Homo sapiens: one gene and its partners. The protein of the gene in region 6 purifies or fractionates together with the protein of the main gene of each other region. This does not show direct contact. Each region holds a gene or a part of one and is shown on either strand. Other genes may lie near its edges. The genes, in order: ARHGAP42, GART, STON2, FLII, BNIP3L, MYO19 and FLNB.

Evidence for each region.
Region 1: the proteins of MYO19 (region 6) and ARHGAP42 purify together in Homo sapiens (affinity purification with mass spectrometry, with the first as the bait; one large-scale study listed by BioGRID). This does not show direct contact.
Region 2: the proteins of MYO19 (region 6) and GART purify together in Homo sapiens (affinity purification with mass spectrometry; one large-scale study listed by BioGRID and IntAct). This does not show direct contact.
Region 3: the proteins of MYO19 (region 6) and STON2 purify together in Homo sapiens (affinity purification with mass spectrometry; one large-scale study listed by BioGRID and IntAct). This does not show direct contact.
Region 4: the proteins of MYO19 (region 6) and FLII purify together in Homo sapiens (affinity purification with mass spectrometry; one large-scale study listed by BioGRID and IntAct). This does not show direct contact.
Region 5: the proteins of MYO19 (region 6) and BNIP3L purify together in Homo sapiens (affinity purification with mass spectrometry; one large-scale study listed by BioGRID and IntAct). This does not show direct contact.
Region 7: the proteins of MYO19 (region 6) and FLNB purify together in Homo sapiens (affinity purification with mass spectrometry; one large-scale study listed by BioGRID and IntAct). This does not show direct contact.

What each region holds. Positions count from the first base shown.
Region 1 is NC_000011.10:100,959,788-100,963,287, forward strand, and holds part of ARHGAP42 (rho GTPase-activating protein 42), read left to right. Parts: intron 1-95; coding exon 96-158; intron 159-1,127; coding exon 1,128-1,202; intron 1,203-1,896; coding exon 1,897-1,981; intron 1,982-2,621; coding exon 2,622-2,680; intron 2,681-3,500. UniProt on the Homo sapiens protein: May influence blood pressure by functioning as a GTPase-activating protein for RHOA in vascular smooth muscle.
Region 2 is NC_000021.9:33,507,618-33,511,117, forward strand, and holds part of GART (trifunctional purine biosynthetic protein adenosine-3), read right to left. Parts: intron 2,304-3,500; coding exon 2,166-2,303; intron 1-2,165. UniProt on the Homo sapiens protein: Trifunctional enzyme that catalyzes three distinct reactions as part of the 'de novo' inosine monophosphate biosynthetic pathway.
Region 3 is NC_000014.9:81,390,325-81,393,824, reverse strand, and holds part of STON2 (stonin-2), read left to right. Parts: intron 1-3,500. UniProt on the Homo sapiens protein: Adapter protein involved in endocytic machinery. Involved in the synaptic vesicle recycling. May facilitate clathrin-coated vesicle uncoating.
Region 4 is NC_000017.11:18,252,239-18,255,738, reverse strand, and holds part of FLII (protein flightless-1 homolog), read left to right. Parts: intron 1-475; coding exon 476-556; intron 557-884; coding exon 885-970; intron 971-1,056; coding exon 1,057-1,218; intron 1,219-1,556; coding exon 1,557-1,660; intron 1,661-2,019; coding exon 2,020-2,195; intron 2,196-2,280; coding exon 2,281-2,438; intron 2,439-3,182; coding exon 3,183-3,267; intron 3,268-3,500. UniProt on the Homo sapiens protein: Is a regulator of actin polymerization, required for proper myofibril organization and regulation of the length of sarcomeric thin filaments. It also plays a role in the assembly of cardiomyocyte cell adhesion complexes.
Region 5 is NC_000008.11:26,407,054-26,410,340, forward strand, and holds part of BNIP3L (BCL2/adenovirus E1B 19 kDa protein-interacting protein 3-like), read left to right. Parts: intron 1-946; coding exon 947-1,050; intron 1,051-1,173; coding exon 1,174-1,323; intron 1,324-3,287.
Region 6 is NC_000017.11:36,507,369-36,510,868, reverse strand, and holds part of MYO19 (unconventional myosin-XIX), read left to right. Parts: coding exon 1-123; intron 124-1,733; coding exon 1,734-1,807; intron 1,808-2,944; coding exon 2,945-3,066; intron 3,067-3,356; coding exon 3,357-3,470; coding exon of another isoform or gene 3,471-3,478; intron 3,479-3,500. UniProt on the Homo sapiens protein: Actin-based motor molecule with ATPase activity that localizes to the mitochondrion outer membrane. Motor protein that moves towards the plus-end of actin filaments. Required for mitochondrial inheritance during mitosis.
Region 7 is NC_000003.12:58,126,922-58,130,421, reverse strand, and holds part of FLNB (filamin-B), read right to left. Parts: intron 1-3,500. UniProt on the Homo sapiens protein: Connects cell membrane constituents to the actin cytoskeleton. May promote orthogonal branching of actin filaments and links actin filaments to membrane glycoproteins. Anchors various transmembrane proteins to the actin cytoskeleton.

The DNA of each region.
Region 1 (3,500 bases), on a different chromosome or scaffold from region 6:
ACTGTTGAGTCATAAAGGCCCAGTGAACAGAGCCAACTGAAGGGGGAATGTGAGTTCAGCGTAAACACCTAATGCGATTTCTCTCTTATTTTCAGTGTATTTGAATGAAGCAGGGTTCAACTTTGTGAGAAAATGCATTCAAGCTGTGGAAACAAGAGGTCAGTGTTGCCTGATTGGTACAGCATCCCTGTCATGTGTCTCATTCTTACATGGAAAACTCTCAGAGTAGATAAATCATTGAAGATGTATTTGGTCATTAACATGGATTAATTTTAAGAGTAATATAAATGTATGTATCGGTATACAAATAGCTATACCTTGAGCTTCAGTTTACTAAAAATCATGCTTTAGGCATACTTCTTTTTTAGATTTTTTTCTAATACAGCCTCACTATACTTCTTATTGAGAAGCCCTGCATTATTTATTACTGCAAGCACCTCTTTGATTTTTTTTTTTCCAAGCATTAAGGAGGTAAGATTCTTAAGGAGCTTGTCTTCACTCCCTTCCTTCCTTATAGTCTTTCTTTTACTGATTTGTCACTGCCACAGTTTTGGTACCTTTCTTCGTTTTAATCATGACCTCTGTCTTGAAGTCCACTCCAGTTAAACTTTAAACTCACTTCTAGGAAAATTTGGCTAAAGCAAAATTCATATTGGGTTTTGGAGTTCCATAAACTTATATTTAAATTTTAAGTGCTGCCACTTCAACATTCTGAGAAGTAGTTTCCTTGAATTCTCTGAATCTGTTTCCTCATCTCTAAAATGAAGATATAAATGCCATAGGACTTTTCAACATGCAGGAGGACTCCATGACTCTGAAGAAATAGAATATGAGTAATATCGATCATCCCTTCCCATCTCCATTGCTTTTTTATATTCAAATAATGGTGAATAGGCAGCTACACTTTGCTACTTTGAAGATCTTCAAAGACTTTCAAATCACTGTTCAGTGTCTGCTCTGAGAAATAGAAGTCTGATGGGTATTTCCAGGATAGCTTTGCTAAAGTTAGACTGTGAAATTGGATAAGTAGCTTTCAAATTTTGTTAGGCATATGTCTGAGTTTTTAACATTCTGTACTTGCCAAGCTGTATCTCAAGCCGTTTTCTTGTGATTTTCCTTCCTATTAGGTATCACCATTTTAGGACTCTACCGAATAGGAGGAGTGAACTCCAAAGTTCAAAAACTCATGAATACCACATTTTGTAAGTTTTGGATGAAGCAACTTACATAATTTTTGTGTTCTTATAGGTAATCTAAAGTATGGACTTCTTTGACTAGTGCTTGTCTTTGAATATTTTCAAATAATATTTAAAGTTCATATATGTATTCAGTTTTTAATGTTCATTTATAATAGATGAACGATGAGAATTTGAGGGGGCATTTTTATAATACTGTATTTTTTTTCCCCAAGTGTCCTTTGGTAAGCTAGAGATACAATAAGATGCATGGATGCTAGCTGGAGTCATTTGGAATCCTAGCTCAGCCACTTACAGGTTTTGTGACCTTGAGTAATTTGCTTAACGTCTTTGTGTCTCAGCCTCCTCATTTATAAAAATAGGGATAATAATGGTACCTGCCTCTTAAGAGTTGTGAGGATTGACTATGTTAATCTCCGTAAAGCACTTAGAAGCATGCTAGGCACATGGTAAGTGCTCTGTCATGTTAACAATTAGCAATAATTTCATTTGGGAGACTTATTTCATAAGATATATCTTTGAGGTTTAGTGTCAGCTTTTTATCAATTCACGCAAACAACAGTACTAATGTTAACTCTTGGCATTCTAAGAAATGAATACCTCTCTCTTTTGACCTACTTACGTTTGTGCCCATTTTTCATAATTGCATAAGAAATATTTTGAACTGCACAATTTAAACACCTTGTTTTATTCTTTCCAGCTCCTAAATCCCCTCCTGATATTGATATTGATATTGAACTGTGGGACAATAAGACGATAACAAGTGGGCTGAAAAACTACCTCAGGTGAGGAGGGTTTAACTCCTGGTACTCTGGATGTAATCTCTGACTCACCCCTTGAGTAGTAACCACGTGATTTCTTGGAGCCTGTGTCCAGAAGCTTCACTCAGTAGCTCAGTTCCCTTACATAAGGTGAAATAGCATGACATGGTAACATTTACATTTAGTGTTCTGGAACTTGTACTTGATTTTTTCAATAATAATTTAAAAGGCTATATAATATTTTGAGTACTGAATTAGTATTTGTTGTCCCATATGTATATGGGATTTTTATGTACTTTTTTAAATAACAAATTGGAATGGAAAGTTGTGTTGTTTTTGTTTTGTTTTTTAACTATTGTTCCCATATTTGTTCCTCTGGTAAGGTAATTCTGATATTGGGAGACTCCCAGTCTCCCCTCTTAATACAGTCATGGAAAGAAGTACATTGGTGTCTTCGAGGTCTGCGTTTCAGGTCTCTCTGTGGCCCCACTACTGGAACTTTATCATACTGCCAAATCACCCAATTCTTTTATTTACTTATTTATGTGTTATTTTATTTTTAATTGATGAATAACAGTCACCTAATTCTTAAAGAAACACTTAACGTTTAGGGGAGAATAAAAGATTCTACTATTCTAACATGTGTTTCCTTTCTCTGTTGTAGGTGCCTTGCAGAACCACTGATGACTTACAAGTTGCACAAAGATTTTATCATTGCTGTTAGTAAGTATACTTGCATCATATACACATTATAATTGATGTAGTTTTATGCTGCCATACTTAGGCATATATTACTAGTATCAGCTAGTGAAGATTTTTTTCAAGTATTGCTTAAAAAGTTGTTAATCTGGGCCGGGTGCGGTGGCTCAAACCTGTAATTCCAGCACTTTGGGAGGCCAAGGCTGGCGGATCACCTGAGGTCGGGAGTTCGAGACCAGCCTGACCAACATGGAGAAACCCTGTCTCTACTAAAAATACAAAATTAGCTGGGCATGGTGGCACATGCCTGTAATCCCAGCTGCTCGGGAAGCTGAGGCAGGAGGATCACTTGAACCCAGGAGGCGGAGGTTATGGTGAGTCGAGATCGCGCCATTGCACTCCAGCCTGGGCAACAAGAGCGAAACTCCATCTCAAATTAAAAAAAAGAAAAAAGTTGTTAATCTGATATTTAGTAATTTATAATGTGTTTTAGAAGCCAATAAGAAATTGCAGAATTAACTGAAATATTTTGACACTTAGTGAGACCTCATTGGGTAAGTGTGGTGATTATAAAGAACCATGAGGAATTATTATTCTAATTTCATTTTATTTGAATGACAAATACCAGTTTCTTTTAAGAGCAACTAAGCAGGACTCTAAATACGTACAGACGATTATGTCCCTGCACATGCTCATGTGCTGTATTCCTCAATCTGGAGATGAGTCAAATATTTTTGGCAGACAGCAGGTGCTTCCATCAATCCCCTCTCCCTCATATTTTATTTGCAATGATCACATTTATGTCATTTGTTTAGATCTGTGATTGCCGTCATATGATATGAAT
Region 2 (3,500 bases), on a different chromosome or scaffold from region 6:
TCAAGACCAGCCTGACCAGCCTGGCCAACATGATGAAACCCCATCTCTACTAAAAATACAAAAAATTAGCCAGGCATAGTGGCAGGTGCCTGTAATCCCAGCTACTCAGGAGGCTGAGACAGAAGAATCACTTGAAACTGGGAGGCGGAGTTTGCAGTGAGCCGAGTCTGCGCCACTGCACTCCAGCCTGGGCGACAGAGTGAGACTCTATCTCAAAAACAAAAACAAAAACAAAACAAAAAAAAACTGAAATAAAATAACTGGATTGTTTGTAACACAAAGAATAAATGCTTGAGGTGATGAATACCCCATTTACAGGGATGTGATTATTACAGGTTGTATGGCTGTATCAAAAGATCTCATGTACCCTATAAATATATATACCTACCATGTACCCATACAAATTAAAAATTAAAAAAACTCCCTTCCTCTTGGGATAATGGATTAATAGATTGTGAAAAGCACAGATATTCCTGGATAGCCTCCAGTTCCATCCATATTGCTGCAAACGACGTGGTTTAGGATATGTAATTGCTCCTAGGATATGTAATTGCTCCCACAAATTCTGTATCTTGTGATCTAGCATTGTAGTAGAAACAGTATAACATTATGTTAAAACTGACTGATGAGAAATAAGCTGCTTAATTAAGCAAGAAAAACTGACCCTCTCAAGAACAAACCACTATGCTATGACTCTTACAATAGTTTCTTTAAAAAAAAAAAATTTTAGATTCGGGGGTACACACGCTTGTTTATTACATGGGAATGTTGTATAATGGTGGGGACTGGGCTTCTAGTGTACCTATTACCTACATAGTGAACATTATACCTGATAGAAAAATTTTCAACCCTCACCTCTTCTCCCACACTTCCCTGTTTTGTATCTATTGTTTCCATCTTTTTTTTTTTTTTTTTTTTTGAGATGGAGTCTTGCTCTGTCTCCAGGCTGGAGTACAGTGGTGCAATCTCAGCTCATTGCAACCTCTGTCTCCAGGGTTCAAGCAATTCTCCTGTCTCAGCCTCCAGAGTAGCTGGACTACAGACGTGTGCCACCATGCCCAGCTAATTTTTGTATTTTTAGTGGAGACAGGGTTTCACCATGTTGGCCAGGATGGTCTCGATCTCTTGACCTTGTGATCCGCCCGCCTCAGCCTCCCAAAGTGCTAGGATTACAGGCGTGAGCCACAGCACCCGGCCCTATTGTTTCCATCTTTATGTCCACATGTACCCACTGTTTAGCTCCCACTCATAAGTGAGAACATGCAATATCTGGTTTTCTGTTTCTGAGGCAGTTCACTCAGGATAATGGCCTCCAGTTCCATCCATATTGCTGCAAATGATGTGGTTTTATTCTTTTTTATGGCTGCATCTTACAATAGCTTCTTTGCTTTATTATCAACTTGGGCCTAAAGTACATTAAAACCTTAAGATCGACCTGTAAAGCAATTAAACTTCTGGGAATGAATCCTGAAGAAGTATCAGAGCTGGTTGTGGTGCTGCATGCCTGCAGTCCCAGCTACTCGGGGGGCTAATAAGGCGGAAGGATTGCTTGAGGCCAGAGCTGGAAGCTGCAGTGTACTATGACTGCATCTGTGAATAGCTACTGTACTCTAGCCTGGGCAACATAGCAAGACTGTCTCAAAAAGAATCACTATGATCTTGGCCATCAAATAAAAAAAAATCACATATGCATTTAAGAACATACTGAATATTTGCAAGAATGTTCATAGCAGTGTTACTTACAATAGAGGGAAAAAAATCAGGCTACATCCATCTGAGAGAATACAATACTCTTATTACTTTACCCCTCTATCCATAAAGGTTAAACATAAACTTCTTCTAATTAATAAGATAACAATAAAAATTCCTCAACTGTTTTCAGACTTTTCAACAACAAAGCTATGATACAAAATGAGCTGTAGCTTCTATCTTTTCTGGTTTCTCTTTAACCAGCTTTCTGACATCCTTTACTTTTTTCTTTGGGAGCTGTCTCAAATTCCTAAGAAAAGTGGAAAGACTAAGAATGCTGAAAAGACAAAGACAACCCTCATGATTCCCCCCAGTCCCTAGACTCTGCCGAGAGTAACCTTACAATCTCACAAGAGTGCGGGGAGGAAAGGAAGGGCAGTCAACAGCTCTACAGTGAAGGGGAAGCCACATCTCACCTGTTCCAGATATTAAGACAGCCACTCTGGCCTTTTTTTTTTCAAAAGAGAAATGATTTGTCAGGGAGCCATTCTTCAACACTGACCCATTTATTTGCATGCTTTCAATCAGATTCTTGACTTTCACACGTGGGGAACCTTCATTTCAAACATATCCATAAATAAGTAAAGAACAATTGTGAATTAACAAGAATAATGGAAAGAAAAATATTTTATGAAAACTTTAGGGTATGTTTTATCCTGAAAATAAGATAATGCAAGGACTAAAATGAACAACACATTTGTATCACTTAACACTACTCTTTCATAAAAACTTCCAAAAGGTGAACATATGTAATTACTTCAACTAAAAGCTGCAGATCACATCACTATCTTGAAGTGCACGGTGGATATATATGACTGCCTGCCAGTATTCTGCCCCTACTCCCCAAATCTTCCTAGCGAGACCACCCACAGTAGTGCCATGATCTCCTGGTCTCGGGGATAAGCATGTGACCTAGCAAAGCCATTTAAAGGCTTGATATGCGATGTTAAGAAAAAGAGGGTCTCTCTTTTTTTTCTTTTTGAGATGGAGTCTCGCTCTGTTGCCCAGGCTGGAGTGCAGTGGCGCGATCTCGGCTCACTGCAAGTTCCGCCTCCTAGGTTCACGCCATTCTCCTGCCTCAGCCTCCCGAGTAGCTGGGACTACAGGCGCCCGCCACCACGCCCGGCTAATGTTTTGTATTTATTAGTAGAGACGGGGTTTCACTGAGTTAGCCAGGATGGTCTTGATCTCCTGACCTCGTGATCCACCCGCTTCGGCCTCCCAAAGTGCTGGGATTACAGGCGTGAGCCACCACGCCCGGCTGGGTCTCTCTTTCTTATTGTAATGTGAGCTGAAGGATGTTATCTTTCCGGCATTTGGAGAACCCGCTTGAAAATGAATCCTACACAATAGAGGAAAGAAAGGCAGATACAGGTAAAGTCAACAAGGTCTGACATTTTTTTTTTCTATTTTTTATTTTTGTGAATCTTCTCTGTATCGTTCCAATTTTAGTATGTGTCCTGCCAAAGCAAGCATGTGACGTCTTTGTTAGTGAATCTGAGTGGATTTTCTGCCCCTCTGCCAAGTTCTAGCACTTCTCGCAGAGTCCTGACTGATACAGTACTTGTCAGGGTGCTTGCTCGCTATTCCTTGAATCGAGCTGAGTGACAGCAGAGCCATGAGGTCTTGTGTGTAGGGAGATTACTTTGGGAAGCGATCCTGTGGGGTGTGGCTGTGCATGCATGAATGCTTAGTTCTGAGGCAGAAATGAAGAGATACGTGGTATCGCTGGGGTGGGTGCTGTCATGTTA
Region 3 (3,500 bases), on a different chromosome or scaffold from region 6:
CCCTTACTGAACACCTAACACTGAGAAGGCTCTGGGCTAAGTGTTGATGCATGTAGGGAAAAGTTACGGAACACTGGGCAGTGAATGAGCACAGAAATAATGTTCCTTCTGCTTAATATGATACATTTACTGCATACTTATTGTCTCAGTTTCTGTGCTCAGTGCCTTAGCTACTTCATATCATGTACTCCTTACAACAATTGTATGAGGAAGGTATTAATATTAATCCATATTACACATGGTGGAGGAGACTCAGCCAGAAGTGGGCTTTGGGAATTCAACCAAGATTGTGTGCTAGGAAATGGCAGGAGAGCTTCCGCACCAGGCTGACCGGCCCCAAGGTCTTGGAGCAGCCTTCGGATGCCCTGTGCTCTCCTTCCGTTTGCCTCACTCTTCCTGCTGCTGCTGCTGCTGCTGCTCTAGTATCCTCTGCTCCCTCATTACCCAGGAGGCAGTGGGGGCAAGGAATGGAAGGTAAGTGATGGGTGGGGTGCTCTTTCTCCACTTTGCTGCCCTAAAATGGCCGTGCCTTCAGGTCATGGATTATATTCATGCCATTCAGATTCTTTCACATTTTATCTTTAGCCTCAAAGATTTCCTGATTGCTCAAAACTATTTATATGACAGTCAATTTGCTCAACTCTTCACTGATTTTTCCAAAACTAATTTTGAGATTAGTCATAATTATGTTGCCCCCATCTGACTGAGGATCTTATCTTGTGACTGACAATGCTTTTGATATATTGTGAAAGCTTTACCCTTTAAGGCAGCAATTCACAGTCTGGCCCATAGACCTTGCTGTCTCCTGAGACCCTTTCAAGGCGTCTTTGGGGTTAAAATCATTTTCATTCTAATTCTAAGATGTTATTTGCCTTTTCACTGCATTGACATTTGCATTGATGGTTAAAAAATAACAGCAGATGAAACTTTTGGCCATTGTCTACTCACAGTAAAACAAAATGTATATTTCACCCAATAATATCCTTGATGAGGCAGTAAAAATTATTAATTTCTTAAAATTGTGATTCTTGAGTATGTCTTTTTAACATTCTCTGTGACAGATTGGGAAAAAATACATGAAGCACTTTTGCTCCATATCAAATTGTAATAATTGTCTTGAAAAAAAAGTTTTTAAAAAAATATTTAAGAATTCAGTTTAAAAATTAAAGTTATTTTAAAATTATTTTTTAAAATCACATAATGCAAAAAATTCTTAATGAACAAAATATCAGTACTTTAAAGACAAGATTCAATTAACACTTTCATGACTATGCTACACTTGGCCCACCTGGACCTGGTGTTGCAGGAATTTTCCTAAAGTTCAGCTAAAGATGGGGTCCTTGTCCATCCCACAGCCATGAAAATTCAGGCTCACAGATGGTTTGAAGGGTAAGTAAAGCAGGGCTTTATTGGGTGAAAAGGAAAAAAGAGGGGAAACAGGGACTCTCAGCGAGGCCAGAGTTCATCTAGAGCACTTCCGGACCGCGCCCAAATCCCAGGTTCCACACAGGAAGAGGAGGGGCCAGGCTCTTCCCTGCTGCAAGTGGCACAAACTTCCGCAGCTCCACCCCAGTGCACAGGCCAGTTGGAGTTTTTCTGGGAACCCCCTCCCCTCTGGCTGTCTCACTGGTTCTAATAAAGCTTTATTTACAGAGATAGTCAACCTGTGAGCTGTAGTTTGCTGCTTTGATTTTGAGTTGATATTTTTAACATATTGCCTTAAAATGTTACTTTGATTACTGAGTTTTTTGGCACCCTCTTAAATTTTACCTCCAAGGCAAGTGTGTCACTTGCCTTAGCCTAATCTCAGCCCTGCATTGTCCTAAGAATTTTAGATGTATTAATATTACTAGAGAATAAATCAAGAAATGACAGTGTTCAAATGCATGAAAGCATAATTTTGAAAACTGCTCAAGTATGAATAATTCCATCTGTTCATATGTGTGAAAATTTAACTCAACCCTGTGGAGATGGAGTTTTCTACCTTAGGAGGGTCCTGTAGGATGGGTTCCCAGCAGACTTGATGCCCAGTCTGTAGGCAAGAAGCAGAAATAAACCATGTGGAGGGCCAGCCCCACCTCAAGAAGTGTTTCTAACCTGGAAACCCAAGGAGCATAGGGGACGGTGCACAGCATTAGAGTGGTAAAGAAAATGGTTCAATTCCAAATTTTCTGCCAATACCCAACTTGACCCATCAATGAACCTAAACTGAATCAAAAGCTGCAGAGTACATTCCTATTACCCAAACTAACCTCTCCCACATAAGCTAATTCCCTCTTGGGTTTCCTCCCATGGATTGTGTTTAACAATAAGGATAGAGTAATTGGCAGAGCTAAGGCCAATTACACAGGAGAGACTAGGCGTTAGCCCCCCACTCCTGCCCCCACATAATGGATAATGTAGACATTCCCCAAGTTACACAGTCATTCCATTCAGGAGGCTGTTGTGCAGCTCAGATTTTAATTTGAATCCAAAATGTTTGAATGCATGTGCTGTATATTGCAATAATACCACATATGTAACTGCAGGCATTATGCAGAAATAACACAGATGTTTGCAGCAAGTAGAGACAGTGTGAGACTTGCTGCAATCACTGCTACCTGCTCTGTTCTTCCAGTAATACTAAGCTGAGTAATGGCTCCCAAAGACATTAGGTTGTCCTCCCTGGAACCTATAAATATTATCATATTTGGGAAAAGGGTCTTTGTAGATGAGAGTAAGGATTTTGAGATGGGGAGATAATTCTGGATTATCTGTGGGCCTTAACTGCAATCACATGCATCCTTATGAAAGTGGCAGAGGGCGATTTTGCTTACACAGAAGAGAAGGCACTGTGAAGATGAAACAGAAAGAAATTTGAAAATGCTGATCTTAAAGATTTTAGTGATGAAGCCACAGCCAAGGAATGCCGGCAGCCACCAGAAGCTGCAAGATACAAGAAACAGATGCTTCCTTAAAGCCTCTGCGGGGAGTGCAGTTCTGCTGACATCTTGATTTTAGCACAGTGATTCTCATCTCAGACTCTGGCTTCCAGAACTGTGAGAGAATAAATTACTGTTGTTTTGAGATACCAAGTTTGTGGTAATTTGTTACAGCAGCCATAGGAAACTAATGTACTAAGTCTGTAAAATCTTAAAATGGAACCCTTTGCATAAGGCTGAGAATGAGTCAGTCTGAATTAGGGGAGCATCTGTAAATCTGTAATGATGCAGGACTTTTTGTTTGTTTGTTTGTTTGTTTGTTTTTTGTTTTGTTTTTTGAGACGGAGTCTCGCTCTGTTGCCCAGGCTCTGGAGTGCAGTGGCGCGATCCCAGCTCACGATGCAGGGTATTTCTTAAGGAGATGTGTGCATGTCAGTGTGCTTTGTCCCTAAACCTTACAGCTCCTTATAATTTACTCATTGAGTCACCAGATATTTACTAAGCACTTCCTCTGTATAGTTCTGCTAGGTGTGGATATTCAAAGACATAGCGCAGTGCTCAGAATTGAGCAGAAATCCA
Region 4 (3,500 bases), about 18 Mb from region 6:
ACACCATTCTCTGGCCCTGTTCCCTCATGCTCAAGCTTTCTGCATGTCTGTAAGGTATGAGGAGGTGTCAGTCTTAAGTTAGGGAGAGAAAGCAGACTTCCTCTCCATCCAGATTCTGATTTCTCTGTGGTCCACTTCTCTCCCTCTGTTCTGAAAACCCTGACTCAGACCTTACCCCTATCTCACCTTCTGGAATTAAGAAGAAGAGAAATGGTTTGAACAGAAAAGGTTCCCTGAGGGCCCTGTGCTGGGGCTCCGGGGCACATTTGAGCTGGGCTTTGAGGCATGAATAGGAGCTCACTGGGAGGCTAGGAAGAGCGCTCCAGGAGAGGGAGCTATTTGATCAAAGGCCAGAGGTGAGAGAGTCCTCAGGCCTGGCCTCTGGTGAGCTGCCTGAGGAGGTGTCCCTCTCTAGACTCTGTTCCTTCCTGAGAGTGGAAGCCAGGAATTATAGACTCTTATGGTTTATTCCCAGGCCATCGTGGCCCGAGCCAACAGTCTGAAGAATTCCGGAGTCCCCGATGACATCTTCAAGCTAGATGATCTCTCAGTCCTGGTCAGTGGCTACCCACTCACCTGGCCCCTGTGCTAGCCGGACCATTCAATCCCCACTCACTATAAAAGTCCCTGGGGCCATTGTTATCCCATTTTGCAGATGGGAAAACTGAGTCTTGGAGTGGATAATACCTTGCCTGAGGTCACTTTTGGAGTCAGATCCCTAACACAGGCACTCTTCCTCCCAAGTCCCTGGCTGTCTCCCTTTGGCCCTGAAGCCCCCTCATCTACCCCCACACCCAACTCAGTGCCCTGCCTGATCCCCAAGCTTGGCAGACGCCTGGTGGGGAGGAGACTCCCCTGACCTGGGTCTTGCCCCTTCTACCCAGGACTTGAGCCACAACCAGCTGACAGAGTGCCCGCGGGAGCTGGAGAACGCCAAGAACATGCTGGTGCTGAACCTCAGCCACAACAGGTGCCAGGCCAGTGGGGGGCAGGGGGCAGGTGGGCCCTGTGGGGTGGCTGGTGCTGACTCAGGTGGCTCCTGCTCCCCACCCGTAGCATCGACACCATCCCCAACCAGCTCTTCATCAACCTCACTGACCTACTATACCTGGACCTCAGCGAGAACCGCCTGGAGAGCCTGCCCCCGCAGATGCGCCGCCTGGTGCACCTGCAGACGCTCGTGCTCAATGGAAACCCCCTGCTGCATGCACAGCTCCGGTGGGCGCCCCCTCGGACCGCACTCCTGCAGAAGCCACCCTGAGGAGTCTGGCCGGGCCCCTTCACTTCCCAGGGCCCTAACCCTTCTCCCTTAGGCCCAGCCATCCCTCCGTGCAGGCAGCACCCCTCAGTGTACAACCTCCTAAGTATCATGTCCACCTCTCAGTCCTGTCTTCCCGCTTACACACCCCGCAACCACCCTTGGGCTTGTCCCTTCAACCAGATGTGACCTCACACCTACCCTCTGGGCCCTGTGCTTTTGGTCCTGCCCTGCCAAGCCCCACCCTTAACACTCCCTAGGTGGGCCCTGGCCCTGACCACTCACGTCACCCTGGCAGGCAGCTCCCAGCGATGACGGCCCTGCAGACCCTGCACCTGCGGAGCACCCAGCGCACCCAGAGCAACCTGCCCACCAGCCTGGAGGGTCTGAGCAACCTCGCAGGTCAGGCAGCCCCAGGAGCCCCTCTGAGCTCGGGCCCCCTCTGGGCCCTCTTGCTTCCTTGGGTGGAAGGGGTTGAACCCTGCTCTTCGGACCAATACCCAGAGGGAAAAGGCTGGAGTTATGTTACAGTGACTTTTGCGATTATGATGATGCCTTAACACTGACTTTATGCCTAGAAAACTCCCCCGCAACCCCCATGTGAGGGAGTTTGTCCAAATGGAGAAACTTGGGCGCACAGCAGTTGTCACTTGCCTAAGCCACACAGCTCAGAGGTGGCAGAGCTGGGGTTCACACTAGGGCTGGCTGCCCTGGCACCTGGTGTATGGGCCCCAGCTGATGCACCCCACCCTGCACCCCAGACGTGGATCTGTCCTGCAATGACCTGACACGGGTGCCCGAGTGTCTGTACACCCTCCCCAGCCTGCGCCGCCTCAACCTCAGCAGCAACCAGATCACGGAGCTGTCCCTGTGCATAGACCAGTGGGTGCACGTGGAAACTCTGAACCTGTCCCGAAATCAGCTCACCTCACTGCCCGTGCGTCTGAGGCCCTCAGTAGGGGGATGGGAGGAAGGCCGTGAGCCTGGCCCTGACCTCCCACCCCTGCCCGTTCCCCCTCCAGTCAGCCATTTGCAAGCTGAGCAAGCTGAAGAAGCTGTACCTGAATTCCAACAAGCTGGACTTTGACGGGCTGCCCTCAGGCATTGGCAAGCTCACCAACCTGGAAGAGTTCATGGCTGCCAACAACAACCTGGAGCTGGTCCCTGAAAGTCTCTGCAGGTGCTGGGCAGGGCTGGGGCTAGCAGAGGCACTTGCAGCACAGAGAACCCCGGGATCGTAGTCAGAGCCCACCTTGTGGTCTGTGCAAGTCAGACAAAATGAAGATGGGTTAATTCACCTTTTCTTTTCTTTTCTTTTCTTTTTTGTTTTTGAGACAGAGTCTCGCTCTGTCGCCTGGGCTGGAATGTAGTGGTGCAATCTCGGCTGACTGCAGCCTCTGTCTCCCAGGTTCAAGCGAATCTCCTGCCTCAGCCTCCTGAGTAGCTGGGATTATAGGCGTGCGCTACCACGCCCGGCTCTTTTTGTATTTTTAGTAGAGATGGGGTCTCACCATGTTGGCCAGGCTGGTCTTGAATGCCTGTCCTCAAATGATCAGCCTCCCAAAGTGCTGGGATTACAGGTGTGAGCCACCACGCCCGGCCCAGTTAACTCACCTTTGTGGATGAAGACCACAGTCCCATGCCAGCCATTCCCAACTTGAGCCCCTGAGAGCACCCTTCGGGGGGCACTGTTAGGGACAAGGCCACATGACGTGGGAACGCAGTGTTGCTTCTCTCCCCTTCTGGAGATCACAGTGCCCGTAACATGGTCTCTTGGCTCTGAGAAGTCCTTCAGGCAGAGAATGGAGACCCCCGCCAGTTCCTCTGACCCTACCTGCCTCCCCTCCCCAGGACTAGGGGTTTTCTTGCCCACTTCCCCTTGTCTGTCACCTGCCTGAGGCCCTGGCTGGCCCTGTCTTCACAGGTGCCCAAAGCTGAGGAAACTTGTCCTGAACAAGAACCACCTGGTGACCCTCCCAGAAGCCATCCATTTCCTGACGGAGATCGAGGTCAGGCATGCTGGGTTTGAGAGGGCTCAAGAGAGACAAGCAAGGGGTGTGCCCTGGAGCAAGGGGGACCCAGCAGAGGCCTCCTGAGGGAGGTGGCCAGTGCCAGGGTGCCCGTGGGGAGAAGGTGGGCCCCACCTCCCTGCATCCAGAGTACATTCCACAGTCTCATTTAAGCCCCCAGCCAGCCCCAGAGGTGGGTGGGAGGAGAACCCAGTTCCCTGACCTCTCAGCCC
Region 5 (3,287 bases), on a different chromosome or scaffold from region 6:
TGGATCTCGGCTCCACCTCCCAGGCTCAAGCAACCTCCACCTCCCAGGCTCAAGCGATTCTTCTGCCTCAGCCTCTCAAGTAGCTGGGATTACAGGTGCCCGCCACCATGCCCGGCTAATTTTTTTTTGTTTTGTTTTGTTTTGTTTTTTGAGGCGGAGTCTCGCTCTTTCCCCCAGGCAGGAGTGTAGTGGCGCGATCTCTGCTCACTGCAAGCTCCGCCTCCTGGGTTCACGCCATTCTCCTGCCTCAGCCTCCCGAGTAGCTGGGACTACAGGTGCCCGCCATCACGCCCAGCTAATTTTTTTGTATTTTTAGTAGACACAGGGTTTCACTGTGTTAGCCAGGATGGTCTCGATCTCCTGACCTTGTGATCCGCTCACCTCGGCCTCCCAAAGTGCTGGGATTACAGGCGTGAGCCACCGCACCCAGCGTGTAAGTTTTGTGTTTTTTTTTAGTAAAGACGGGGTTTTACCATGTTGGCCAGGCTGGTCTCCAGCTTCTGACCTCAAGTGATCCGCCTGCCTCAGCCTCCCAAAGTGCTGGGATTATAGGCATGAGCCACTGCACCCGGCCTAATTACGAAAATTTTAAGTGCATACAAGAGAGAATAATATAATGGACCTCCATGTAAGTATTGCCCAGATTTAACTCTTATCGAGGTTTTTCATACTTCCCTTAGCATTACATCCCAAAGTACAGTCTTATGCAGTTCCTGTGCTGTGCTTAGATATCCCAACAGTGAAGCTCACTCAGGTTGTTCTGAAGATATTACATACTCTGATCTTACATTATTTTTCAGCATTTTTTAGAAAAGCAACATGTTTGTTATCTAAAATTTCTGAGACACAACCTTATGAGTTTGGTATCTTTTCTGTCTAGATTTTTCTTTGTATTAGGAGGAATTGGTCTTCCTTTTTTTCTTAAAGTTTGAATTCTTCTTTACAGTCAGAAGAAGAAGTTGTAGAAGGAGAGAAGGAAGTCGAGGCTTTGAAGAAAAGTGCGGACTGGGTATCAGACTGGTCCAGTAGACCCGAAAACATTCCACCCAAGTGAGTTCTCACATGTTTCTTGTCAGTGGACACAGTTGATCTGCGCACGCTTACAGGCAATGGGCCTGGTAATCCCCACGATATTTTCAGCAAATGACATCTGCCTCTGAATTTCTTTCTCAGGGAGTTCCACTTCAGACACCCTAAACGTTCTGTGTCTTTAAGCATGAGGAAAAGTGGAGCCATGAAGAAAGGGGGTATTTTCTCCGCAGAATTTCTGAAGGTGTTCATTCCATCTCTCTTCCTTTCTCATGTTTTGGCTTTGGGGCTAGGGTAAGTACCGGTCAACTCCTGAAGTTTTTTCCATTCATTTTATCCTCTTATTTTCAGATTGAAGAAATGTATGTGAAAGCAGTTTTTATTGCTTTACTTTCAATGTTTTAGTGCAAATAAGGTGAACTTAAAAAAGTGGGTGCACAATTGTTCTACAAATAAGCATTTTTAATAATAGTAGAGTGTGTTTTCTTATTTGAAAATAAGATGTTTGGCCTGGTGTGGTGGCTCATGCCAGTAATCCCAGCACTTTGGGAGGCCAAGATGGGTGGATGACCTGAGGCCAGGAGTTCAAGACCAGCCTGGCCAACATGGTGAAACCCGGTCTCTACTAAAAATACAAAAATTAGCTGGCCATGGTGGTACATGCCTGTGGTCCCAGCTACTTGGGAGGCTGAGGCAGGAGAATCGCTTGAACATGGGAGGCGGAAATTGCAGTGAGCCGAGATCATGCCACTGCACTCCAGCCTGGGGGATAGAGTGAGACTCCATCTCGGAAAAAAAAAAAAAAAAAAGAAGATGTTCATAATAATCCCCTAAATGATCAAATGTAAGCGGACTCCTCTGTGATTGATTTTTCTTTTTGGGTTTTGTTGTGTAATATTTAATCTTGAGTAATTTATGAACTAAACTAATCTTTAGCATGTACATTTTGTGGTCAGTGCAAATACCTTTTTTTCATATGGGAAAATACATGATTACATTGAATAGTTTTTTTTAATGAAACTGGTAGGTTGATTGGTGCTAATTTTTTCCTTTTTTAACTTTGTAGTATTTTCATTTATTTTGCTAAAATCAACCTCATATTTACGTGTAATTCATTAGTTTCTTAGCCACATCTTTTAAATAAATTGCTTTTTTTCCTTGATTTAAACAATTGAGGAATTACACTTCTGAAAGATTTTAGGAGTTAAACAGTAGCTGTTAATTTTTTTCAAGACGTATGTTGTGCTCTAAGCATGCCCAGTGGGTCATTTTCAGTATAAGATATGCAGAAGATGGGGTCATCCTTTTTCTTCCCTTTAAGGAGCTCAGCATATTGGAGAGAGATTCTTAGTCACGACCTCAGAAACTTGCATACAGCTTTCCACACACCCGTCTTGTCTCTCTTGGGTGCTTGATCTGCTTTTGTGAGGGCAAGGACAGTAATCAACAAACAGCAACCTAGAAGGGGTTTGTGCAGAAGGGGACTGTGTGACTGTTGCGTGGGGGTTGATGTGGGGCAGGTGTAGGAGTTTAATACATTGCTGCCTATACAGCAGTTCATTGCCCTTAAGCGATTGGTGTCTATACCTTGCCGTCTCTCTTTCAGTCATCTTCAGATTGTTTGTCTTGGCTGTAAGTATAACTATTGCTATAGATGAATGTAAAAAGAGTGTTTAAAAAGTTCGTTGCTTTAATTGCACTGGAGGTGAAGCTAGTTACATACTTTCCTTAACTTCCCTTCTGCTTTTGCTGTTGAAGAGGCCAAATACTTTCTTGGCATGAAAAAGTATTATAAGGCCCCTAATCCTTAGGAGTTATTAGTAAGAGCTGTCTTTAAAGCACTGGCAGCTTTTAAGGTTTTTTTTTTCTTTTGTCCTACATAGAGCACCAGAATAATTTCACATATTACTATATTTTTGTGTCTGAAATGTCAGTAGAACCTTCTGTCCACCAAAGAGGAACATCTTGAAGGAGTTGGGCTGCTTTATTTACTCTGTGGAGGGATCTGTTCTCTCTGGCTTTACTTTGTCTAATCACTACCCCTTTGCTGTCGAGCCCCGATATTTAATGAGTAAACAAACTCATATAAAACCAGTTTGGCCGGGCTGGTGACTGGTTTTAAGAAAGTCAGTGATGATTTCACGGTGTTTGGGGAGCGGTACCCACAAACCTTTAGAGCCTTTTACAAAGACTGAAGAGTTTTAAGTAGAGTTCAACCTGTGGACAAGCTGGTATAGAACTGTTGAAACAGGTGAAAC
Region 6 (3,500 bases):
GCTGGAGATGGTGCAGATTAGAACCATCAGGGCAGGCAGACAGCAGCAGGTGTTCCGGAAGCCCTGCGCCCGAGCCGAGTGTGACACCCGTAGAGACTGCCTGGCCAAACTGATCTATGCGCGGTGAGCAGTTACTCTGGCCCCTTGTTGGGGAGGACCCCGACAAGTGCTCTTCCTGTCCGGGGTTGGGCCAGACAACATCAGGCAATAGGCACAGGCCCAGGGTGGGAGATAAGACAGACTGGTTCCTCTCCCTGCTCCTCAAACCCCTGGACACATCAGGGCACAGCTCCCAGGTTTCACCAAGCAGCGTCTGTGGCCTCTTTCTGAGTGGGAAAGTTGCTACATTCCTGGCCAGAATTCAGCTCATTATTAAAGTTCAGGAGGCTGCTTTAGCCTCAGCAAGGTGAAGAGAACCTGCTCAGCTGTCTGCTGGCAAGGCAGGCCCCAAAGGTGATCTAGAGCCTTCGCAGTTCCTGCTTCAGATCCTTGGCTGAATGGGCCTCTCTGTCTCCCTGTGCCTTTGTACATCACCTAGGAGTTTGATAGATTGTGGTAAAGCCAGAGGCTCAGCCCACAGCATGTAGCACAGTGGTGAAGGTGGGGTCCTGGCCTTTTCTGGTAGATTACGTGGGTACCTCCACCCTCTGGCCATGTGGTTAAGGATGATCTCTCACCTTGAGTTCTGAGATTCTTCAGCAGGCCTTGTAAGGGCTTCAGGGGCCCAGAATCCTCTGAGATGAGCCAGAATGAGTGTATGTGTGTGCATGTGCACATGAGACCTTGGGCACCTTTCTGGGGAGAGGGTCCCCTGCTTTCATAAACTCCACAAAGAGCCAATAGCCTGAGAAGCTCTGCTGGGGGAACCAGATCGTCCGAGTTGAAAATGGTCCAGGGCAGCTGAGGCCAGACTAAATCCATTTCAGCAAGAGACTAGTTACCACTGCCTCAAGCTAATTTCAGGTCACAATTTGAGGTCAAAGGCTTTTAAAGCCTTTGCCTACAAGTCACTCCAAGATGAGCAGATAAAGTGTGATGAACACAGATAGAGTGAGCTTCTGACCACAGGACATTTGCACAGCCCCTGTTGCAAAAAGAGCCAGTTTATTTACTGAAGGGAAAAAAGTTGCAGAGCAATTACTTTAAGAAAAAATGTGAGGAAGAAACCCCTGTATAGTGCTGTACGTGTCAGCGTCTTGTGTGGTAGTCTCATCTTCTCTGGGCTGGGGCCGGTTCTAGAGTGGAGGATGCCATTGTTGACCTCGGGACTGGGGGCCCACTTGTGCAGAACTACATCAGGGGGTATGGTGGGGCCTTGAGCTCTGGGCTCCACCGGTAGAGTTTTGCAGGGGTGTTCAATGAACTCAGTTATTTACAAACCACACCCAGGCCCATCTGCCCCTTCCCAAGACACTAGCTGGGTCTCGAGCCATGTGACTGAGCTCGACTGATTCCCTCCCCAGCCTAGGAGCTGAGCTTGTCCTGTGCTCAGTCTTCCCATAAGGACATGCCAGGTTTGTGTGTACCTGGCAACATGCATGCCCATAGCCTGCATCTGTAGTAGGTCAAGACGTGATAGGCCGGAAGCAAGAGGAGAGGATTTGGTCTTTGACCTGTCAGGCTCAGAATACAAGGGCCCCCCAGGGTGTAGCACCCTGATGGGGGGAGCAATTTTACCACCCCTTTGACTCAGCCAGACCCTCTTACCAGAGTCCACTCTCTTCCCCCAACAGGTTGTTTGACTGGCTGGTATCAGTGATCAACAGCAGCATCTGTGCAGACACCGACTCGTGGACCACTTTCATAGGTAGCAAGGCCTCACTGTGCTGGGAGCACTCCAGAAAAAGAGCAATAAAGCCCTGGATGGAGAGGCAGGAGCCCTGGGTCCACTGTGTGACTCTGGGCAGTTCCTTTCCCTTTTTTGTCTCCTCTTGCATCTGCCTGCCAGCATAGAGCGAGATCTCTGCATAGGGTGAGATCTCTGCTCTCCTGCACCCACATCTGAGCAGTCCATAACTCTCCAGACAGGCTCAACAGTGCCTTGTCTGAAAGAGCCCTTTACCTCCCCAGAGACCCAGCTCTAATTGTGGGAGAGTAGTGGGGGTTGGGGAAAATAGCTGTATTAGAAGGGACTTTGGAGGCTGGCACCGTGGCTCACACCTGTAATCCCAACATTTTGGGAGGCCAAAGTGGGAGGATCACTGGAGGCCAGGAGTTGGAGACCAGCCTGGGCAATATAGCAAGACCCCATTTCAAAGAAATTAGCCAGGCATGGTGCTACATGCCTGTAGTCCCAGCTACTCAGGAGACCGAGGTGGGAGGATCACTTTAGCCCAAGAGTTTGAAGCTTCTGTGAGCTGTGATCACACCACTGCACTCCAGCCTGGTCAACAGAGCAAGACCCTATCTCAGGGGGGAGAACAAAAAAAGACTTGGGGGACATGACTGAGGGAGGTCAACACGGTTGTAACTAGGTGGGACAGTCAGTTATAGGAGGAAATAAAGCTTAAAGGTACAAGTGCAGTTTGCTCATGGAATGGTGGAATTCTAGGCACCAAATTGGCTAGTGAGACTAATGCCCTCCGAACTAGATTTAACACAGAAAATGTTCCCTGGGACCTGGTTTCCTCATAGGAGGTGCCTATCAGAACCAGAGAATTCAGACTCAAAAATGGGCCTGATGCTCTGGGCTGTCTTCACACTTCATTTGGGTTTCCTGCTTGCTCTGAGCTCTACAGGGGAATGGGGTAGAGATGGGAGCCACCTTGGGTGGAGGGTGGGGAAGGTATGTTCTGCCCACCACAGGTGTCATGCTCACTCAGCCTGATGCCCAGGCTGCCAAGTATAAGGCATTGGCAGGGGCCCAGCCACCCTGGGTTCCTTGGTCCCCTATTCCCCATCTGCTCCCTGCAGTGGCCCCATGGGTTCTCTGCCATCTTCCCAGGCCTGCTGGATGTGTATGGATTTGAATCATTTCCTGACAACAGTCTGGAACAGTTGTGCATCAACTACGCCAATGAGAAGCTGCAGCAGCATTTTGTGGCTCACTACCTAAGGGCCCAGCAGGTGAGGGATGGGGTGAGCAGGAGGCAGGTCCTTCTTTTGGATCCTCAATCCCTTCCTGACCTTCCAGCCCCAGTCCAGGTTCTGATTAGAAGCCTTTTGTTCCTTCTTATTTTATTTTTAATTGACAAATAATAATTGCACATATGGAGTACAATGTAATGTTTTGATATACTTTTGTTTCTTTGATGCTGTTCTGGAATACGCTGTGGTACCGAGGCCAGCCGTGGATGGCCCGTCAGGACATCAGACCACAGCTGCCTTCTCCCACCTCATCCCACCTTGTTCTTTAGGAGGAATACGCAGTTGAGGGCCTGGAGTGGTCATTCATCAACTACCAGGACAACCAGCCCTGTTTGGATCTCATTGAGGGAAGCCCCATCAGCATCTGCTCCCTCATAAATGAGGTGGGGAGGTCAGCTAATGAGCCGAGCACC
Region 7 (3,500 bases), on a different chromosome or scaffold from region 6:
TGGAGCACTCAGGAGGCAATTAACCTGGTCTGCGGGAGACCAGAGAAAGCTTTCCAGTAACATCTCAGTTGCGGCACAAGAGGGAGCAGACAGAGAGGTGCTTCAAGTAGAGAGGCCTCAGCACATGCAGGAGCCTAGAGGCGAGGGAGGAGACAGGCTGCTGGAGCAACTGAAGGAGGAAGCCAAGTGGTGGAACAACAGAACGGAGAGAGATGGGCAGGCCCTGCAGCCCACATCCAGCCCTGTCCCCCACACATGGCTCCTGTGTGTCCCCCAGACTCCTCTCCCTCCAATGCAGCTGGCACCTTCTGACCACACTCAGCCTTCTCGGTCACTCGGCCACCTGGTGAAGCCTTGCCGTCTTCCTGAGTGTAAGCTGAGCTCCTGCTACATGGCTGACCCCCCGGGGGACCCTGAGGGCCTCTGACTCCTTGAGGGTGTCAGTTTTAAAGATGAAGCACAGAGGAGTCGAGGAGAGGAGATAGTGATTTGCTAGAGAAGTGCTAAACAGAGAAACAAGGGCTAGGCCAAGGACACTCATGGACTCCACTGTGGAGGGGGACCTCCCCATCCAGCGAACGGCAGCATGCCTCAGGCTACCACGCCCATCACCAAGGGGCTACGTGCACCTCTGCCTCGCATGGGAGTCCTGGTGCTCCCCATGGTATCTGGCAAAGTTAATGACTGCCGTGAAAGCTGAGGGATCTCTGCTTTGCATCCCAGAGAATTTATACTTTGTAGAATTAGAGATGGTAGACAGCCAAGACACACAAAGAATTGAGTCCCTGGCTTTCTAACAACAGCTGGGTTTCAACGGCATCCAGGTCTTTAGCTACGTGAAATAAATGGCTGGCCCTGGCAAACAAGCACAGGCCTCCACACTGGGGTGAGAGGAACAAAAGGGGGCTTTACTTTAGAGAGTGACAGTTGAGGATTTCAATGTCAACAGCTGATGGCAAGGGACTACCTCTGAGGCCAATCTTTAAGTCAGAGCCTCCACTAGAAGTTGTCTGAGCTCAGCATGAGAGTAGCCAAAAACCAACAAACCCGGGTAAGATAAACTGTCCAAGATGGCAGACCCCAAGCATTATCCGCCACTCCCCTGTTCCATGCCCAGACACATGTCACCATTCCCTCATGCCAGATCTTCTTCCTCATGCACTCTGAACCCCAGTCAATCCAGTGGTCTAGGGAGCCGCCACCAACCAACCACAGCTGGCCTACCACAGGAAATCAACATGCCATTACGGGTAAGACAGGACACGTTGTTAAAAATAACTCCACTCCGGGTTTTTAACCAGGCCAGGAAAAACTAGGCTAATATTTAAGCACCCAGAATTACCATGAAAGCAAATTAGAAGGTGGCAGGTAGCCGACTGTTTCCCGGCAGTACCCCCATAGGTTGCCTTAGCTAAGAAGCCTGATGCTTAGAAAACCAACCAACACTTCACTAAATATCTCTGCCTGGGAAAGTTCTGGGGTTCTGGAAAAGCCGGCATTTGGCTCTCTGGGAGGCAACAGAGAGCCTGAAACATAAAAAGGCACCATCCACACCTGATGGGAAAACCACAAATGAGTGTCTTTCTGTTGTTATGCTCAAAGACGACCATTTGCTTTAAGCTCACAGGTCGGCCACAGGGGACAAACTCTGACCCCTTTCTGTAAGGGGGATTCGGAAGCTGGTGGCACTCACCAGCCTTTCCCCATAGTCAAAAAGTTTCATTGCCACAGGAGATGTTCATCTCCACTGTTGCCTGCCAGGTCGGAGCCACATCACCCCTCCTGGGAGCAGCCTTCTACCCGTTTCCTGTGCCCAACTCTCTCCTAACGCAAGTGTTACAAAACTCCAAAACAAGCCCGTAGCTCTGAATTCTGTCACCGAGCCCCATTCTCATTCTTCATAGCAGTCATCACAAGTTTTAGTTGTAAAAGCCCTAGACAGTAAGCTCCCTGAGGGCAGGAACTTTGTCTTGCCCACAGCTGAAGTCCCCTAGACTAGTGATTATAGGAATTTTTTAAATCTATATTGAATGAGCCGCAAGCACAAGTTTGAGGAGAAACATGTTGTTTTAAATGACTTGAGGCTTAAATGAGTATCTGAGTAGAATCAGTCTGAGTTGAATGTCAATACTTTCTGATCAGTGTGAGAGAGAGTGAGTGTGAGTGTGTGTGCACATTTCCATGTGGTAAGGGGGAAGCAGGAATGGAATCAGGAAAGCGTGTGGTCAGTGGACACTCCAGCTGCCTGAGAGTTAACCCAGAACCCAGCAGTGGGCCCCTCAACCTGCCCTTCCCCTCTCAGCGTGACCCAGAGAAAGAAGAACAAGACCCCGCTGAGGCTCTTTCTGCTCCTGGGGTCCTGGGGTGGGGCTTTGCCCTCTTCACACCACACCTAAGACAAGGCATAAGTGGCCCAGAACAGCCCCAGCCCTCGGTCTTCTGTCCACACCACACACTTGCCTGCCCTTTTAGAAATGGGGGCGGGGGAGGTGGTCTCAGAATTCACCACTATAGAATTCATCCATGTAACCACAAACGACTTGTACCCCAAAGCTATTGAAATAAATAAATAAAATGTGTGGGGGTGACAATCATTTGAGTAGATAACTAGAACCTATGGAGAGTCCTCCCCCCAAAACAAATGGAGGAGGGTCTTTCACTACTTAAGTCATATATTTATTTATTGTTTGAATCTTTACAGCAGTGGTTCAGGCTGAAGTGATTTTGTCCCTTAAGACATCTGGCAAGATATGGAGACATTTTTGGTTGCCACAAATAAGAATGGGGAAGGAGAAGTCTGCTATGGGCATCTAGCAGGTACAGGGCAGGGATGCTGACAAAAGTCTACAATGAACAGGACAGCCCCACACCACAAAGAATCATCTAGCCCAAAGTGTCATAGTGCCGGAGTTGAGAAACCGTGTTTCACAGTGATTACACATGACATCACTAAATACAAAAGAAAGAATTTGAATCTGCATATCTTGATCAGCTACTAGTATTGTCAGTGAAAAAAAAGAAACCAAGACACATGAATAAGGAGCCAAGCACAAAATAAGGTAGAAATTTTCTTTCTTTTTCTTTTTTTTTTTTTTTGAGACAGGGTCTTCCTCTGTCACCCAAGCTGGAGCGCAGTGGCGCAATCTCAGCTCACTCAACCTCCCAGGCTCCCATCTCAGACATCGTCCCATCACAGCCCCCACCCCACATAGCTAGGATTACAGGCACGCACCATCACACTCAGCTAAGTTTTGTATTTCTTGTAAAGATGGGGATTCCCCATGTTGCCTGGGCTGGTCTCAAACTCCTGACCTGAAGCAATCTGCATGCCTTGGCCTCCCAAAGTTTGGGGATTACAGGTGTGAGCCACTGTGATTTTCAACTTTGTAAAGAACCAGCTTTCCCCTGAATCAAGAACTAGGTCCTCCAACACACGCACAACTGTTTCCAGTCAAAATTCTAAGCCGATGCTTTTTGCCATGTTACCGGTTCTACTGGGA